Linked DNA regions of Homo sapiens: region 2 is linked to region 1. The links come from fine-mapping of genetic effects on gene expression. Tissue or cell type: liver. Region 1 holds a variant in brackets; the other region holds the start of a gene. All regions are shown on one strand. Distances are between the middles of the regions.

Region 1 (5,153 bases):
TGAAGGCAACATTTAGCATCCTAATTTATTTCTCTTTTCTTTCTTACTTCTTCCATGTTTTCACTGGGAAATGTCTGTAAATTATTGCTTTTTGTTGTGTGTAAAAAGTCGTTCAACCAGCATTTTCCTTTGTTAGTGTGGGTTATTTATAGTTGAGTTTATGGTACTATTCTCAGCTTTATCATCCTGTTTCAAGGGTAATGATACTCCCAAAGAAATAAAGACTCAGTTTTGTTTCTAAGGATGTTCATTCATATCTCTATGTATCTGAAAAAAATGTCACTATGCAAAATGGAAAGTTCATATATTTTAAGGAAGGATCTAGAAACACATTATTTAATTGATTTTTTCTTTCAAAATGTCCCCAAGTTAATTTCAAATAGCCTTTTAAACATGTTTCTTTTTTACATTAATCTGTAAGGATAACTCCACATTGATCAACAGCCATTTTTAAAAAATGAGAATTGCCTTCTGCAGAGATATCTTTATTCTAACATGTTAAATCCACAGGGCTTTATACAAAATGAAAAAAATCAATAAAACGAATGATGTGATTCCTAGTGAAAAGTTGTTCTGTATAAACAAAATACTGTAATTTTTATCTGAAAAAGTCCTAAATTCTTAAAATTCCCTAATTATAATTGCAACTGCAAGAAGCCTAACAACAAAAAATATTGCTCTTTGAAAATGTTCTGCAAGCCCCTCTAATGACAATGACTACCATTGTGTTTGACAAGGATCCCACTGATGTTTGCTGCCAGGGGTACATGTCTCTAGCCTCAAAGATGGACTTAACTGAGGCATCCCCTGGGATGAGCTGGTCAGAAGAAGAGCAAGGGTGGGATGGACATGGATTTTGGCATTCAGTCGTCAGAAAATAAGAGACAATCTAATCATCACAATCTATTCTACAACTTTAGCCTCCTTAGCACAGATGGACTAACTGGCAGAGCGTATTAGAGGGGTTTTTGGGATGGCCTGCTTGCCCCTGTAACTCTGCTAGAGATATAAATGAAAAAAAAGTAGATGCTTAATAATTGTTTGCTGAAGGAGTCAGGAACTGAGAGGTCAAGTATTGCAAGTTCTCTCACAATTTTCAGTCTACTTCAGCCTAGAATCTGGGCCTCAGCCCGTAGCCACAGGTTTCTCTCTGGCTCTCTGCTGCAGAGGAGGATGGCACCCAACCAATTCTGTGCAGAAAGCCAGGAGAGTGCAGAAAATGTCATGCTCATGAGCAAAGTTCTGGGTACAAAGGACTTGTGGAGTCTGGAAATACCTGAATTTTCCTTGGAGAGGAAAGATTAGGCCTGAGAAGTTGTTCAAAATTGGACCCCTCCTTCCAAAGTGTGTCTGAAAAGTGTGTTTGGGATAGGCTTGTTATGTATGGCCTTTATCATGTTGATGTATGTTACTTCTAATCCAGTTTGTTGAGAGTTTTTATCATGAAGGGGTGCTGAATTTTATTGAATGCTTTTTCAGCATCTGTTGAAATTATCATATGGATTTTGTCCTTGATTCTGTTGATCATATATCATGTTTATTGATTTGCATGTATTGAACCATTACTGCATGGATGTGCTTTGAGAAGTGCTGCATGTTCAACAATAGCCAGTCAGATTAAAAGGTGCGCCTATAGGCCCAGAGCTGCCCATGTGCCATGGGAGAAGGACCAATAGCACTATGAGCTTCCTGCTAGGGCACACCAAAATGAAAGTGTTTGGTGTGAGATGTGTACCACATCCTCCAAGCCAAAATTCTGGCTTTCTTCTGGGCTGCCAGCTTTTTCATTTCACAAAAATTTCAGCCTTTCACTTCCCTTGCTCAGATTCTTTTTACCCTGGGATTTACCCTGAGATTTTTTATCCTGTAAAAAAACTACCCTGTAATTTTTTTTACCCTGAAATATTACTCTGTAATATTTTTACCCTGGGATTTACCCTGTCACAATCCATAACTTGGTTTTAGCTCCTGTTCTTCTGGTTTCATTTAGTCCTCAGTGCCCTGAAGCACGTGCCATCAGTGTCCCCTTTCTCCCTTTCTGTCATCATCCAGTGGGCTTTTCCCTGACTTCCAACTCCCAGTATTTTCATCTCAGTATCTCATTTCTTTTTCAGCAGAAGCACAGAAAACAGCTTTGCCTATGATCCATGATCAGTGAGCCAGAAGTGCCTGGGAATTAACAAACCCTGGGAGCAGCTTTCAACAATGACCTCAGGACAACTCCTGAGATATAAATACCCCAGCTCCCCTGCCTCTTGGATGCAGTAATTTGAAGGGGTATGTTCCCTGGCTCTCAGAGTTTCCTCAGTGAGATTAAACTCAAGTTGCATACAATACTAGTGGGACTGGTAAAGCACCCTTTTTCTTTTTTTGTATTCCTTCCCTTCTTCTTTACCCTTACACCCAGCATTTCCTAAAATTGCTATTTGCACTCAAATCCTTGTCTCAGGGTGCTCTGGAACAATACAAACTCCAGCACATGTCTAACATTAGGGGCTCTACCTCTACTCCCTTGCCATTTCTGTCTTTTTAAAAAACCTCTTGCTGAATCATCTAGATTCTATTTCTACAAAAGGATGGGCAATGGTTTAGAGATAAAAAAGGAAATTATATAAATGTCCAAATAATTTATACTTATGCTAGATATTCGGTGCTTTTAATCATTAGAAACCAAGGTTGTTGGCTTAGCACATCAAGTGAAAGAATTCAGTGAAACCAGGTAGAAAAGGGTACCAATATTTTTTTAGGAATGGTAATAGCTAATCATTTATTGAACACTAGTGACAATGTTTAAACTATGTGTGTGTTACTTAAGTTTATCTCTATGTTTAAACTATGTGTGTGTTACTTAAGTTTATCTCTACAATATTATTATATCTCTATAATATTATATAGATATATATGTAATATAATTATTATATCTCTATAATAAAC[C/T]TAAGAGGTAGATATACTTATTCCATTTTTACTGATGATGAATATGAATGGACCAAAGTAATTTGCCTTAAATCAGTCAGCTCATAATGGTCAAAATCCACATTTAAAGATCTTACTCATGTCAAAGTCCATTCTCTTAATTAGTCTACAGTCTTCCTTATAAGTTTTCTTTGAAGTAGATGGGAGATATATAATCAGTCCTACTTACTGATTCTGAAATGCAATTGATCAAATCATCATTCTGAAGGTGTAAGATTACAGCTTTTCTTTAAAAGGGATTGAGCTGGCTATAAATTGCAGTATAAATTCAGATTTATTCTGTTTCACCGTTTAATTCTTGGAAAAGACTACTCATAAAAATTCTCTAATGGCATTATTGGTATTATGCATTAAGAGCTAGAAAAATAGGTCAACATTTTAGACGTATTTCTGGTGGCGCATTTTGCTATTAGTCTACAAGGATTATAGCAGATCACTATCTTTAAATGACATTGCAACTTGAGGCTCAAATTCGATGATCCTGGGAAAGTTGAAATTTAGTGCCCTGTTTTGAGGTTAAACTATGGCTGCAAGTAATTTCTAGAAAACTGACATCCTGATAGACTTGAAAAATAAAAAAAAAAGAAAGAGGAAACAAATTAAAATTGTTCTATCAGGCTTTGCCAGGGTCTAGAAATCCTAATTTATAATGAAATTGGAGGTGAGCTAAGATAGCAATAGAATGAGAAGTTAGGAAAGGGAAGAAATTGACCAGGAACAGTGAATATACTGCTTACATTATCTTACATCAGAATTCAGGAGTCTCCAACATTCATTAACTAAATTCTCTCTTTTGTGTTTACTCTGATAGTTTTGTAGTTGTGATAATATTATAGATATAGTCTAGTTGTTGACATTTGGAGGTAAGAGTATCTCCAACCTGGGTCAGGTAGCAGTTTAGTAAAGTATTTTCTCTTCATTAAGACGAGAGGTGTTACCAAATGGAATAAGTATTTGACTTTTCTGTGTGACCACATGATATAGGTGTTAAATAGGTTTGTCTTCAGATGCAAACATCAGAAAACCTGACTAAAATCCCTCAGGATTGATGGGGTTTACTTTTTCTAAATAGTGCTAAGTCTGAAGGTAGGTGGCTCTGAGCATTTAGGGGTTTAGACATGTGAACTCTCCTTCCTGGTTGCAAGTAGCAATCCTGGCTTAATCAAGTTTATACTCAAGGCAGAAAGAAGAGAGAATGGATGACAAAAGCTTCCCCAGAACCCACATGTGGAGTTTTCCTATGTCTCATTAGCCAGAACTGGGTTATGTTGGCAAGCCCTTGCTGAAGCAGAGACCAGGAAGGTGAAGATTTAGTTTTTCTGCTCATACTGTGGAAGGTGAAAGGAATGGAGGTTAGGGAGGGTATAGAATTAGCAAGCCAAGAGTTCCTATGTAATGCCAACGTGTAAGTAGGATCTATAAATATTAAATCTAAGAAAACAAACTTTAGTAGAACATACCAAGAAGGACTAACTAATCATCACGGCTGCCCAGAACTGCAATGGGCTCCCCAGTAGGTAATTCATTCCCTATCAGAGCATATGTTTAAACACTGGGTGAATGAGCATTTGACCGATTTACTGTGGAGAAGATTTAAACATTAGATAGATAAGTGGTTGAACTTTATGTCTTCAAAGTTGTCTTCAAATCCTCAGGATTTTATGATACTCTGTAAGCATTCCAATTGCTTGCAATTTGAAAATTGTTTTTTCTTTGTGGTTCGCTTTTCTGTCATGGCCACTGGCACAAATCTGCTTTACTTTTATCTTAACATTAATATCCAACAGTGAGATATCTAGTCTCTACAAAGAAAATGTATTTATCTCTGACTGTGTTCTTATCTTAAATAAAAACCTTTTACCTCCTTCCAGAAATATTGACAGAATAGATGCTGAAAGAATTTTTTTCTAATGGATATGGTTTTTAATTTGATGCATTTTAAACTTTCAAAGGCTTCGTTAAAGCTCACACACATTGTCTTTTAGATGCCCAGTAGGATGTACATTTCTGTAGCAATCTCGAAGCACTTCCCCTATTTTTGTACAAACTTATGAGATAATCCCTATTTGGATTTGAGTCTATGTTCATGAAAGTCAGAAGTTGTTTAAAGAGAAAAATCATGTAAGTAGTGAGTTGAAATTTTGAACTGGGTAATACTGAAAGTTTTGAATTTTTGCCAA
Region 2 (5,153 bases), 980 kb before region 1:
ATGTCATTTGGAATTGGTCTAGAGCATATCTGAAGTGGACTGATTTTAGAATGACTATACTTAGCGCATTGTATGTGGAAATTAAAATAGGCTATTAGGCTGCACACCCATTTGAGGCAGGTCTTGATAAAAATATTTCATGAGAGAATTTTTTATTTTATAAGAAGATATTTTTTGCTTTTAGCACTAACAATTATATGAGTATTCAACAAATCAATCAGAAATAAACTTTATGAAAAGTAATATTTATATACAAATAAAAGTTACTTTCCAAAAGTGAACAGTGGCATTCCGGTTTGGGCACTGAATTGGAAGCCAAGAAAACACAGGCTGTGTCTCCGTTGAAAAGTATATTGTGTTATTTGCCTTAAATGGTTTTATTCCCAGCTCTATAATCATTGCCTACAGGGTGAGAAGAAAATGGAGATTTGGGGAAGAAATCTTTTACATGGTCAAAGTAAAAGAACAACAAAGAAACAACCACAACAGCAAAAATCCCTTCCTATAAATTCCAGGTTTCAAAAAGGTGTTTTTGAATAACATTAATTGGTTCTAAAATCTCTATGCACAAAGGTACAAAGCTGGACAACAGGGTAGGCCACAGTAAGAACAAATATTGGCAGCAATAGCTAGGTCAGGTGACAGGCCAGTGAGGTATGTGAACTATAAACTAGAGTGGCATGGGGTCAGTATCAGTGAATTTCTTCATGGAATATCAGTCAACAAATATACTTTAGATGCCTGCCATATGTGAGGCATGGAACTGGGGATACAGTGATTGACAGACAGATGTTGTTCCTGCCCTCCTTGGTCTACTGCAACTTTAGGCTCTGGCTTATGCGCTCCCTTGGCCGTTGGTTGGAAGGTCTTAGTAACTAATTTTGAATTAGCAGCTTTAGAATGCTGACTGGTCAATAAGCTGAAGAGCTTGGATAGCAGGGTAGCACCACTGAGAAAACCAGAGTTTTGGAGTCAGGTCAGACCTGAATTTGAGCCCAGTTCTGCAAGTTGTTGGAATTGAAATTTGGCAAATTATCTGATGCTCAGTTTTCTTATTGGTAAAATTATATTTTTTCATAAAATTATAATAAGAATTAAGTGGAATTCAACTAGTTGAGATAATATATATAACATGTTACTACAATGGATGGTATATTACACATACTTGATATTTCCTTTTCTGAGAGAAACAGTAAAACTAAACATAGGGACTAGAAGAAAGCTATCCTTTCTGAACCTGAGGAGGGCTGGGCATCCAGATGAAAGCTCTGGATGACTCATTTCTTCAACTATTGCTTTTTTCTTCCCTTTCAGGCTTGAACCCAGTGCTGACCCCCTCCCAAGAACTTCTTGTTCTTGCTTCCAGAGGATTGGAACTGTTCCAGGGGTAGCACTTAGAGAGCAGGACATGCCCATAAGCTTGAGGAAGGTACTGCTTACAAGAAATGAGTCACAGCAACTCCATTGCTTCCAACAACAAAGTGGATGAAAAACACTCAAGCCCCACTAAACAATACTCGGAGTTTTGCTGCGACAGACTGGTTAGACTATTTGGACACTACCATGAAGACTATATCCACCATTCTGCCTTCAAAGGAGGAGACTGCAGAGAGAAAAGGGGAAGAGGAACAGGAGGAAAAAGGGGGAGGGGAGGAAGTGGAGGAGGGGAAGAAGGACGTAATAGAGGAAGAGATATAGTTTTATTGTCACATAGAAATGACAGTAGGAATCAATTTTTTCACTGTTGGTCTTTAGGAAATCATCTGACTTTCTCTGAGTTAGAGTATGATCGATTATTAGAAAATGGTAAAATGTGTTAAAAACTCTCTTTGTACGGTTTTGTGAGAAATGTGTAATGCTTAAAGACTAACCAAGAGCCTCTTGGCTAAACCAGGTTGATGTCAACAATAGCTAGTACTTATTTGAGTCACCTTGATTTTCCCTCCTCTTGAGAACTTTCTCTAACCAGTTTAGGCTGCAGTCATGCCTCCTTTCCTTTCTCTGAACTCTCACAATTATTGCCTAGATCTCGTTTGGTAATTAATCATGTGCTACTTACTGCCTGTGTCATCTCTTGTATTGTTTTCTTAAAATATTTACACTTTTTTTTCGGTTGTCACTTATCTTTCCAGCTGTCATTTTCTTCAACTATTTACGTCTCTGTTACTCATCTTTCCAGCCATCCTGGCATCCCATTAAGGTGAAAGCTCTCTGAGGCAGGAACCTTTTCTCAGATTTCTTCGAGTCTTCCACAGCACCCCACATTTGACACACATCTGCTACTTCGCAAATGTGTGCTGCCTTGGCTAAATTTTTAGAAGCTGAACTTTTAGGAAAGCTACTATTTTTGAACTCAGAAAAATACCTACCATCCACTAAACAGCTGTACCGAAGTTTGGGTGACAGGGAACCTAAGTTCACTTGTTGCATCTGGCAGCCTCAAACCATGAACCCTCACTGCAAAGCGAGGATGAACGCGCTGCTGCACCTTGGAGAGCTCTTTCGGACAGGTACGGAGGGGAGGGCGTAGAAGAGGGCTGGCACCAGCAGCGCGGTCCAGTCCTCCGAACGGACTGATGGGACTGATGGGAGAGACCTCTTGCACCTCTCGGGGATGTGCGCCTCGGAGGATGCGAATTAGCTTGCGCACAGGGCGCCTTGGGGATAGCGCTGTCCAAGTACAGGCTTGGGTGATGGCTGGTGGGGTCCGGGTCGACATTTTCCCTTCCCGCTCCCGGACTTCTGCACACACGCGCTGCTCGGCGCAGCCGTCTTTGCCCGGCGCCTTCCTCCGGGACACCCAGCGAGAGGGGTGACCGGGCGGCGGCGGGAGAGGCGCACGCTCCCGGGCGCGGGCGAACTTGCGCACCTGGCACCTGCCACACAGCGAAAGCACCGGCCAGCGAGCGGAGGGGCGCCGCCCCCGCCCCCTCTCCCCGGAGCGGACCGAGACCGAGCACGCTCCCGCGGGCCGGCAGCGCCGCGGAGAGAGTGGGTGGGCAGGCGAGGGAGGGGAAGGGAGAGGAAGGAGGGAGGGAGGGAGAGGGCGAGGCGCGTTCCCGCGACGGGGGCGCGCTCTCGCGCGGGCTGCCGGGATCGCTCGCCGCCGCTGTGGTAATGTCCGCCATGTTGGCCATGGCGCAGGGAGCGGATCGGGCGGGCGAGCGGCGGATCTAGTGTGTGGAGGCGGCCGCGGGCGCGGGGGGCTGTTTTCGGGCGGGGTGGGCGCCCATGCTGTGGCCGGGGGCAGTGAGGAGGAGGAGGAGCGGGCCGGCCGCGCTGCACTGAGGAAGGAGGTGGAGGAGGCGGCGGGAGTCCTCCCCCCCTCCCCGCCCGCCCCGCCGCCGCCGCCCGGGCTGTTCCTGTAAGGCGGGGAGACAATGAGTAAACTCTCCTTCCGAGCGCGGGCGCTGGACGCCGCCAAGCCGCTGCCTATCTACCGCGGCAAGGACATGCCTGATCTCAACGACTGCGTCTCCATCAACCGGGCCGTGCCCCAGATGCCCACCGGGATGGAGAAGGAGGAGGAATCGGTAGGGACTCGAGTGTTTATTACCCCCCCTTCCCTCCTCCCCCCTCCCCTTTGTCAGTCGGGCCTCGCCATTCACAGAGCGCTTTACGCTCGCTGGAGGGCGCCGCTGCCGCTCTAACGCACGGGACTCTACGCCGGCGGAGTAGCGTAAACCCTCTCGGCCGGCGTAGCGCCCGCCCGCGGCCGCCATGTTGTTGCGTCCCAGTGTTGTGATTAGCTCGCAGCGCTGCTTACGCTGCCGTAAGGGGGCCTTGCCGTAAGCGGCGGCCGGGAATGGCGCAGGGGATGCGCTGGCCGCTCTTGGCGTACGGTCTCTGTTTACCTTTCCACCTCCCTCTCTCAGGCGCGGGGCTAATTAATGGCGTGGTATTATTTGGCTAGGCAAGATTATTATTTTTTCCACTTTTAACTTTGGCTTTGTATTGAGTTCTCTTTGAAATGACTGTGGAAGGGTGCTTTCAAAACAAACATCTTCCTCCCAGCAATGTAATCATCCTGGCTCCCCCGCCCGCGAAGGTGCAGCGGGATGAGGCGGTGCAGCACTGCGGCGGGGGAGGGCGGGGGCCACGACTACCGAGCGGGTCGTAGCGTCCGAGGGCCGCCCGCCGGCCAGTTCTGCCGACCCGAGCCGGGCGCGGGGCGGACGGGCTCTGCCTGCTCCGCCTGGACGGCCGTGCTCCGTGCGCAACGTTAGAGAGGAGCCGGGGATGCCCGGAAGCGAGCCGCCGGCGTTGCGTTGTCCTCGAGAATTGTCATTGCGAGGTGGTCCTTAGAAGTTGAGGACCTAGTGCATCTAAATTGGCAGTTGTAATTTTGATAATACAGCACCTTTTGGGAAAATTGCTGCTTTTCCTCCGATGGGTTAAATTTTGCAGACGGTTGGATTTCATCTGGCTTGACAGAGAGTGTTTATGACTCGAGTGGTGTTACTTGCGTGCGAAGTTCATAGTAACTGCACCCTCAAGAATTTCTTCAATGAACCTACAGTCCCGCCTTATTGTCAACCTCGGGTGTGTGTGGATTGGTTCTCTTGCTTCAGTGACTGTCAAAAGGAAGCTCGAGGTTTCAGTGATTGGTTTTCTCTTTTGACTATTAATATTGCAGGAAATGCTTTTATGCCTTCGATTGGCTGGTTGAGTTCTGACCTCATTATGTTACCCTGTTAATACTACTTTGCTCTTATTTAATCACATTTCTCTTTGATGTATAGTTACTTGAAAGTCTTACATTTTCAGTAGAAAATGCATATGGCCGTAGCATCGGGATGAACTTAACTGTGTGTGTACACACACAAATATGTAATAGATATATATACACGCACATACACATATATATTTGTGTGTGCATATATATAAATATGTTTATAATCAAAACCCAGCATTTATCCCTAAGGTTTAGAGCTGTGAGAACTTTTTTTTTTGTATGTGAGAACTTTTTTTTTTAATTTGTTTCTAACGACTCAGTTTTCCATGGGAAGGAAAATTAAAATAAAATCATATTATATACAATAGTTAATTACATTGAACCCTAATAAGCACAACTTTGGATATTTTTGCTATTTTGTGGGTCTTGATCCAAAGAAAGATGGCCTTAAAAGTACCAGTATTGTGTGTAATTACTT

Direction of the effects. Positions count from the first base shown, and alleles are read on the strand shown. Sizes are in standard deviations (SD) of each study's normalised expression.
For the expression in liver of the gene that starts at base 3,114 in region 2, allele C in region 1 goes with a higher level than allele T (large effect, 0.79 SD a copy in GTEx).

What was found. PIP is the estimated chance that this variant, and not a neighbour inherited with it, causes the effect.
Region 2: EPC2 starts here. The variant in region 1 is fine-mapped to the expression of EPC2 in liver (GTEx, PIP above 0.99).

The regions. Positions count from the first base shown.
Region 1 is chr2:149,620,849-149,626,001 of GRCh38, forward strand. The region is part of intron 1 of MMADHC-DT (MMADHC divergent transcript); the gene reads left to right. Among named protein-coding and RNA genes, the nearest start is that of MMADHC, 36 kb to the left of the region's middle. The variant C/T (reference allele first, on the strand shown) is at 2,935.
Region 2 is chr2:148,641,638-148,646,790 of GRCh38, forward strand. It overlaps EPC2 (enhancer of polycomb 2), which reads left to right and starts at 3,114. Exons shown (of 14, transcript NM_015630.4): 1 at 3,114-3,533. The coding sequence starts at 3,381. RefSeq lists silencers at 2,768-3,347, 4,108-4,197 and enhancers at 3,187-3,691, 4,288-4,437.